Regions from separate parts of the Homo sapiens genome. Here region 1 is linked to region 2. Evidence: fine-mapped expression QTL. A gene starts in region 2. The other region holds a variant in brackets. All regions are shown on one strand. Distances are between the middles of the regions.

The links. PIP is the estimated chance that this variant, and not a neighbour inherited with it, causes the effect. A credible set is the group of variants that fine-mapping cannot tell apart.
Region 1: its variant is the best candidate, but not a certain one, in a credible set for the expression of ACTG1 in whole blood (TOPMed, PIP 0.57).

What each region holds. Positions count from the first base shown.
Region 1 is chr17:81,463,961-81,468,336 of GRCh38, forward strand. It overlaps BAHCC1 (BAH domain and coiled-coil containing 1), which reads left to right. Exons shown (of 28, transcript NM_001377448.1): 28 at 1-2,371. Among named protein-coding and RNA genes, the nearest start is that of MIR3186, 15 kb to the left of the region's middle. The variant G/A (reference allele first, on the strand shown) is at 2,174.
Region 2 is chr17:81,510,409-81,514,784 of GRCh38, forward strand. ACTG1 (actin gamma 1) reads right to left here and starts at 2,391. Exons shown (of 6, transcript NM_001614.5): 1 at 2,326-2,391; 2 at 1,824-1,952; 3 at 1,495-1,734; 4 at 780-1,218; 5 at 519-700; 6 at 1-425. The coding sequence starts at 1,946. The coding sequence ends at 282. RefSeq lists enhancers at 1,837-1,926, 3,137-3,416, 3,447-3,496 and silencers at 2,147-2,316, 2,517-2,996, 3,627-3,816, 4,037-4,376.

The sequences.
Region 1 (4,376 bases), 46 kb before region 2:
AGGCTTTCTTACGGTTTTCCCTGGAAAGAGCGCTCCAGGTGTCGGAATCCAGTCCCGTCCCATCCTCTGCGGAGGGTCGGGCTGTGGCCCTCATGGGTCCCCGGCCCGCCCCACCCACAGCGCCCTCCGTTTCCCGCACCGGCAGTTCACGGGAGATTTGAATCCAAGCCATATTCCCTAGTACCTCCGACTGTCTCCCACCAGGGAAAGCAGAAATCAGGTGTGTTGTCTATTTATTTCTCTATGTAAATATTGTATTTCTGCGGGGAAATTTTATGGTAAAAAGTGGAAAAGGGTTTTTCCCCATCCGCGTGACAAGGTGTGTGTGAGCGTGTATGTGTGTGCGCGTGTGTGGCGATTTTTGTCCTGGGGTTTCCTTTGGAAATGCACTGTTCTCAGCCCAGCTGGGTTCCAACGGGGGCACCTGGGACGACAGAGGCATCTCGGGGCAGGGGGCAGAGGCCACGGGAGGGTCAGGTGGGACCCTTGACGGCACCCTCTGATCTCTTGGGGGGACGACCGTGTAAGATGAAAGTCGGTCAAGTTTATTTGCTTTCAGTGCATCTCCTAGAAAAGAAGTGTTGGAGCAGGGGGTGGTGATGAGGGGCCCGTGGGGAAAGGATTCAAGAGGCAAAGCCCAGACCAGGGAGTGTGACAACAGCCGTGAGCATCTCACCTGTGTTCAAAACAAGACAAAGACGAACAAATATTTTAAAGTATTGATAAGAAAAAGCAATGTTTGGATTGTATCTGCTGAATCATATTCCAACCTATATCTGATTTCTGTTTCCGGGGCCAGTTGGTCTGAGGCCAAGGAGTCTGGCCTCCACCCAGAGCAGGGAGGGGCTGGCCCCTCGCCCCCCTCACCCTCGCCGCCCTGGCACACTCGGGAAGCAGGGCCCAGCTCTGAGCCCCTCCTCACCCCTGGGGTCCTAACTTTCCTGAAAGTAGTAGGTGCCGTGAGAAGGGGCAGTTTGGCCAGGTTCCTGAACTGGGCAGGGCTCGGGGCCTATGAGGGCAGGTTCACAGTCCCACCAGATTCTCTCCTCACCCCCAAGCAGAATGCATGCAAAAGACACCCCTTTTCCCACCCACCTTATTGGTGCCCCCAAACCCCTGGCCTGCTGCGTAGATGGTGGTGAGGCCAGGCCAGCAGTGCTGTGGCCAGGGGAGAAGAAAATAAAACGCAGGCCCTGCCCTTGGGGAAGGCCCCTTTCTGGGCCCCCTTTTCCACCAGCCAAATCTGCCTGGCCCTCGGACCCCTCTGCCTGCCCCAACCCCTTTGGAGGTTTCTCGGCCTTTTCTGTGCCACTTGGTGGGGCAGATGGCCTGATGGGCTAGTGCTTGGGGCATAGAATGAGGGTCCCCCTGACCACCTGAGCCCAAATCCTGGCCCCAGGTGCAAGCAGCACCCCTCGAGGGCTCTGCCCCAGTATCCCCAGGGAATTCACACCCCTCCCCTTCTCCCACAGCCAAGGACAGACAGGCTGCCTGGACCTGAGCCCAACAGCCTTCAGCCTCAGAAACGCATGGGGGGCCACACACTCCTTATATCCTCCCACACTAAGGTTCCCCTGGCCCCACGGGAGCTTCAGGAAAGCCCCCCAAGTTAGCCACTGCTCTAGGACGAGCTCTGTGTCCCCCACACCACAGGCCTCGAAGCAGGGTGCTGGTGGGTGCCCTGTACCCCAATCCCAGGTCCCCTTGGCCCCCTATTTTTCTCGGGCCCATTGGGGCCTGTTTCTCACCTGCTGGCTGGACCCCCTGAAGGGCCGTTCCCAGAGGCTCCCCAGGAGGCTCAAGGCTGGGGGCTTATGTTGTGGTCGGGGGTCCCCGCCTCCAGCCCCCCGCTCCCACCCCCGAGCCTACCCTTTGTCTCGCATGAGTGCAATATTTCATTCCCGGTGGTTGTCTGGGGAGGTGGTTGGACGAGGTCCTGCTTGAGGCTCGGGGATCAGAACGATGTCAAGTGAAGAAAAATGCACGGGGGCATGCTGAGCCACTGGAGTTCCAGAGAGGGCCGAGGAGGGTGCAGCCACGGAGGTTGGATCCTCTGCTCCGCCGCCTCGTCCTCGTCCCGCTTCTGCTGGGTTCCGCTTTGTCCCTGGTTTTTTCCTTTCTTTTTCTGTGTGCGTGCGAATGGTGCGGCCCCTCCCCTCTCACCGTGGTTAAC[G/A]TGACGAAGGCACGATTCCTGTAAATGTGTAAACTAAGGGGATGGTTGGATTTTTTTTCAATGTAAACACTAAAAACAAAATGGACAAAAAAACACACAAAGGTTTTATGAACAGCAGACTCTATGTAAAGGCATTTTAGTATCAAATTTTTTATTGATAACTTGCTTAAGAATAAATATATGGACTATTGTACAGGTTTTCGGTGGTCCAGGGTCCTGTGTCCCACGGTACTCCTGGGGGTTCCCCAGGGCTCCGGGGGCTCAGCAGAAGCCTCTCGTTCCCAGAGCTGGGGCTTCTGGGCCAGGCCTCCCCACCGCCCCCTGTGTTGGCCCAAGTGAAGCCCCTCAGGCCAGGAAAGGGTCATGTGACCGGAATGGGCTCAGAGTGGTCTTAGGGGTGGGGTCCCTCCAGGAGGAGGGCCCCTTTCCTGGTTGCTCTCACAGTCCCTGTCCAGCCTGAACCAGTCCAGGGCCAGAGTAGGTTCCACTGGAGAGGACGAAGGGCAAGAGCAGTCTCCGAGCCGCCACGCTGGGCAGGGTCTCAGACGTGAATGACCATCCTGGGAGGGGCGGCCCACGGCCCGGGTGTGGGAACACAGATGAGTGCACCCCCAGCTGGAGAGAGCCCTGTTCATGAGGCTGCAGACCCAGAGGAAGCCGGATGCTTGCAGGGGGTAGGGGACCCTCCTTGTTCCCCCTCTGCCGCCGGGATCTTGGGAAGCTGCATGAAGTCGGTGCACATCTGTCCCAGTGGGCCCTGAGTGCCTGGTCACAGCTGCGTCCAAGGCCAGGAAACATGGTCCTTGGAGGACGGAGTCCCTGAGTCAGCAGTGCCTTCCTGGGCCGGTGAGTGCGGAGAGAGGTGCTCAGGGACCGGCCGTGCCTCAGGCTGCTGTGAGGGCAGGGAGCAGATGAGGCCCTGGCCGGGCCGAGCGCTGAGTAAGGGGGCTGCTGGACCAGGTTTCTGGGTCAGGGGTCCTCTGTGGCAAGAAAGGAAAGACGGGTGAGGCCAGACACTCCCTGTGGGCTCAGGAGACCCTGACTTCAGTGATCTCAGTGACTTTTTTCGGGCAGAATCCAGCCCGGAACAGGGAGGAAGGCCTGCGGCTGTTGCCCCGGTTCCTGGAGCCCTGAGCCAGGACTTGCTGCCGCCTCCTGCCCACTCCAGGAGCTTGCCTGACGGAGCAGGTCGCACGGAGAGGCCACAGGCAGCCGACAGGGACTCTGGGGCAAGAGAGCCGGATGAGGCCCAGGCCGGAGAGGTGACACCTGCCTGGGAAGCCCACAGGAAACCTCTGCCAGCAGGTCTCAGGTTCAAATCCTCCATTCACCCAGCACTGCCTGGTGCCAGCAGTGTACCAAGCAGTGAGCCACAGTGGAAGTGAGCGGCCCACGGCCCCACCTTCATGACAGGCAGATGGGAGAGACCAGAACAGTGGGGCCCAGCAGCTGCACCCGGGGCCACGCAGCTGAGATAACCTCACCCGTGGAACCCCAAGGTCGGCCACCCCCATCTCAGCCAAAAGTGTGGTATCGGGGCTGAGCCAGGCCTGGTGGGGCAGCACTGTGGCTCCCCGCCCCCCGCTGCATGTGGCAGCAGGATCAGCGGGGACTTCCGCACCTGGCAAAGCAGACAAAGAACTGACTGTCCCTGGGGTGGTCCAGGTGGGCTCCCTGGAAGAAGTAACACCTGGGCTGTCTTGGAAAAGCCCAGGGCAGGGCAGGGCAGACAGAGGGTAGTCAAGGAACAGCTGGGGTGGCCAGCAGGTGGTTAATGGGGGCGGGGGGAGGTAGGGGATTGATGTTAGAGCTAGAGGGTGACAGAGGCCAAATCTCAAGCCCCTGAGAGCAGCATGGAGCCTGTCTTCTCTCTCTGACAATGGGTGCCCCAAGGGCTCTAAGCAGAGTCTGCAGTCAAATTGAGGCACTGGTTCTGCAGCCTGGGAGTCAGGGTTGAAGGTCCCAGGCCAGCCAGGCACCTGGGGGTCAGGGTTAGAGGGGCCAGGTCAACTAGACACCTGAGGGCCCAGGCCGGCACAGGTACCTGGGGGGAGGGGCTGGCACCAAGAGAAAGGCTTTAAGGGTGGCACAGGGCCGGACTAGGGGTCCAGGTGGGGCTGAGGGCCGGAAACGGCCAGAGGGGAGGGGGCCTGGCTGAAGGGGGTGCCACCAGTGAGCCCAGGAGGCAGGTGACCCGGGCTTA
Region 2 (4,376 bases):
CCACGAAGTGACCAAGCCACACGTACTAAAGGTTGAACTCAAAGATATGTACAGGGTATTAAACAAATACCAAGGGGAACAGTTAACTTCAATACAAGGTCAAAATCAGCAACAAGTTCTACAATCCAGTGCTGATATCAGATACAAGCTTCAAGGACAATTTCTTTTCGAAGGCTTATTCCAGTTTCGTGAGGCTAGCATGAGGTGTGTGCATTTGCCAGGGGCAAATTTCTATTCTCAATTAACCCATGCAGCAAATGCTACGCATCTGCTGAGTCCGTTTAGAAGCATTTGCGGTGGACGATGGAGGGGCCCGACTCGTCGTACTCCTGCTTGCTAATCCACATCTGCTGGAAGGTGGACAGTGAGGCCAGGATGGAGCCACCGATCCACACCGAGTACTTGCGCTCTGGGGGTGCGATGATCTGCAAAGACAGCCAGGCACGGCTTCAGCTCACAGAGCGCCCCCCAGTCAGCTCTCCCGAGCCAGGCAGAGGGCCACCAACCCCTCGACTCACCTTGATCTTCATGGTGCTGGGCGCCAGGGCGGTGATCTCCTTCTGCATCCTGTCGGCAATGCCCGGGTACATGGTGGTGCCGCCCGACAGCACCGTGTTGGCGTACAGGTCTTTGCGGATGTCCACGTCACACTTCATGATGGAGTTGAAGGTGGTCTCGTGGATGCCGCAAGATTCCATACCTAGGGGACAGAGCCCTCCCTTAGTGATGCTGTGTCACCGAGGATGTAAGAGTAGAAACCTTTAGCTCACAACACCTACCCAGGAAGGAAGGCTGGAACAGCGCCTCCGGACACCGGAACCGCTCATTGCCAATGGTGATGACCTGGCCATCGGGCAGCTCGTAGCTCTTCTCCAGAGAAGAGGAGGATGCGGCGGTGGCCATCTCCTGCTCGAAGTCCAGGGCGACGTAGCACAGCTTCTCCTTGATGTCGCGCACGATTTCCCGCTCGGCCGTGGTGGTGAAGCTGTAGCCTCGCTCAGTGAGGATCTTCATGAGGTAGTCGGTCAGGTCCCGGCCAGCCAGGTCCAGACGCAGGATGGCGTGGGGGAGGGCGTAGCCCTCGTAGATGGGCACCGTGTGGGTGACCCCGTCTCCAGAGTCCATGACAATGCCAGTGGTGCGCCCAGAGGCGTAGAGGGACAGCACGGCCTGGATGGCCACGTACATGGCCGGGGTGTTGAAGGTCTCAAACATAATCTGAGAAGGGACAAGGGGCGGCTTAGTCAGGGACAGAGACCCACGGCCACCCCATGCTCACACGCCACAACATGCTGCATGCCAGTGTGATGTGTGGAGAAAAGAAAAGAACGCAGGCAGAAACCAAATGAGAAACCTGGAGGCTTCAGGGAGGAAATGCCGGGAGAGGAACAGAGCCTGGAACAGCGAAAGAAACACTTAAATGTCAGAAATCAAGCCGGGCAGAAAATGACTGGGGAAAGGACGGGAGGAGCACGGGCGTCGGCCGAGCCTCACCTGAGTCATCTTCTCTCTGTTGGCCTTGGGGTTCAGGGGGGCCTCGGTCAGCAGCACTGGGTGCTCCTCCGGGGCCACGCGCAGCTCGTTGTAGAAGGTGTGGTGCCAGATCTTCTCCATGTCGTCCCAGTTGGTGACGATGCCATGCTCAATGGGGTACTTCAGGGTCAGGATGCCACGCTTGCTCTGGGCCTCGTCGCCCACGTAGGAGTCCTTCTGGCCCATGCCCACCATGACGCCCTGCAGGGGACGACCCGTCAGCCTCGCCGGCGACACCGAACCCACCCCGCAACGCAGAACCCAGGAGCCCCGCGGCGCCATCCACTCACCTGGTGTCTGGGGCGCCCGACGATGGAAGGAAACACGGCTCGGGGAGCGTCGTCCCCAGCAAAACCAGCTTTGCACATGCCGGAGCCATTGTCAATGACCAGCGCGGCGATCTCTTCTTCCATTGCGACCTGCCCGGAAAAGGATGGACTCAGGCGGGCGCGTCTGTAACACGGTCCCCTCCCCACAGCCACCTAATGCCCTCCCGCGGGGAAGCCTCGGCCCTGCCCCAACCCCAGCGGCCGTGGCCTCCAAGATCGCAACCGCCTGGAACCGAAGGCCGGGCCTTTTACGTAACGTCCACGGCTCGGAAGTCTGCACTGCGGCCGGGCCCCGCCCTGGACCCCCGGCGCCCCCCCAGCCCCGTCCGCCTGACCCGGCCCACCCCGCCTTTTGTTCCCGGGGAAGGCGCGACGAGGCCTCGGCAGCTGGAAGCGGGGCCAGCCGGGGTCGGGGGGCGCAGGCCTGCGACGTCCAGCTCAGGCCCCGGGGCGGGGCGCTCACCGGCAGAGAAACGCGACGGCGGAGCGGCGGAAGAACAGAGTGCGAGAGCTGGCAGCGGCGACTGAGACCGACCGCGGCCTCCCCCGCCGTTATTTAAGCGGAAGCGGCGCGCCCGCGCGGCCCGGCGGCGCGCGCGGCCCCAGAACATGTCCATATATGGCGATCTTTCCGAAAGCCGGGCACCCATTGGCCCGCCGGGCAGGGACACGTGGGGCCCCGGCCCGCCCCGCCCCCAGCCCGCACCGCCTCCCAACGGCCCCGCCCGCGCCACCCCCGCGCGCTCGCGACCCTGCGCGGGCCGGCGGGCGGGTCTGAGTTGGGGCGCCCTCCGAGGGTCGCCGGGAGGGCCGAAGGGCTGACGGGCCTGGCCCCTCCCCGGGACTGCCGCGCCGTGGGGAGGGCCCTGCTGCGCCCCGAAACTGCCTGACCCGGGGCGGGGCCGCGCCGGAGCTGGGGTGGGTCCCCGAGTCCCCGGCCACGCTGCGGGGCTTTGCTCCCTGGGACGTCCCTTGCAATCTTTCCCCTCGGGCTCCACGAGGATCTCGGGCGCCAGTGCCGGGCTGAGGAAGGGGCGCGGCGGGGGTCCGCGACGCTCTGCGTCCCTGGGCGCGGGGGAGCTCTCAGGAGCCCTCACCTCGCCCCGGTCACCATAGGAAACAGCCCGCCCGTCCCCAAGCGCAGCCACCACCATGCAGGTCCCTCCACGGGGCGCCCTGCCCCGGATCTCCGTTCGTTTGAAGACCGAGGCCCCTTTCTACCCGACCCGACACATCCCTGCCCCTCAAATCACAGGCCTGATTGTCCCCAGGCGCGCGCTCCGGGTTGGGGCTACCCCGCCCCCTTATGTGCTGAGAAGGTGGTGTGGAGTGAGGCCTTTGTTTCATTCTGGTCACCTGTAGACATTATAGGGAAACTGAGGTAGACAATGGGAGCCCTGACTTTTTTGAAGGTCGGCTCCCCAGCTTCGGGCGGTCGGGGGGATACCCTCTTCTGTTTACGATGCTAGTTAAGAGCAGCGATCAGGGCTGGCGTGGGTTTAGCCACAGGCTTGTCCAGGGCGCTCACTCCTCGCCAGGAGCGGCGCCGGTGCTTTGGTTACACCCCGAGAGGCGCCCGGCACTACGGTTTCCTTGTGCGCTGCTGGAATTTTCAGGGTTGGAGCGCCGGCCGCGTAGGGGTGGCAGTGAGGCCGCGCAGTGAGGGGACGGACTCGCCCGAGGTCGCAGAGCGTTCAGATTGACTCGACAGGCTGGGGGGCGGGGCCGGGGTCCCCACGCGGAGTCCGGGGCCCTGCAACGTTAGCTCGCGACCCCGTGTTTGGGAGTGACAACAGCGAGTCAGGGCAAGGCGGCCGGCCCAGCTCACCTGCGGGCTGCAGTCAGCCCGGACGCCGAGACCCGTGCCTAAGGCCCCCGTGCCCCAGGCCTCCCAGGGGTGCTGAGCGCCCCCAGGCCCAGAATCTCCGGGGGCCCGGGCAAGGCTGTCAGGTATGTTCCCTCCCGTGGCGAAGCCGGGGCTGGGCCTCCAACAGACCCACCCGGACTCGCGTCCCTGGGCAGAACCACACAGCCTGCTCGACCCCCGGGTGAGGACTTCCACTTGGGGGGTCCCAAGATGCGACGTCACACACCGAGGGACACGAGGCGGGTGGGGAATAGCCACAAGCCCCTCCATCCTGCGTTCACCCCACACTACGTTCTGCTCCGGGCCGGCCGGGGACCCTGCCCCTCCGGGTCTCTGGTCTCCTCCGAAGCTTCTTTGTCTAGGAAGTGCGGGGAGGTGCCGGCCCCGGGCGCGCGTCCCCGTCCCCCACCTTTCTTCCCCACGTTGCGGACCCGAGGCCGCCAGGGTCGTGGGGGCGGGGGCGAGGCTGGCGCCTCGAGACCCCCGGGTTCCCCGCCACCCGCAGGGCCTGAGCCGCGGGGAGGGGCGGGGAGGGGACGCCGCCGCGGGCCGGGGGTGGAGAGCGACTTCCTCCTCCGCGGCCGCGTCACGCGGCAGGGGTCAAGGTGTGGCCCAGGTACGCGGCGGGGGGCGGTGGCGCGGCCATA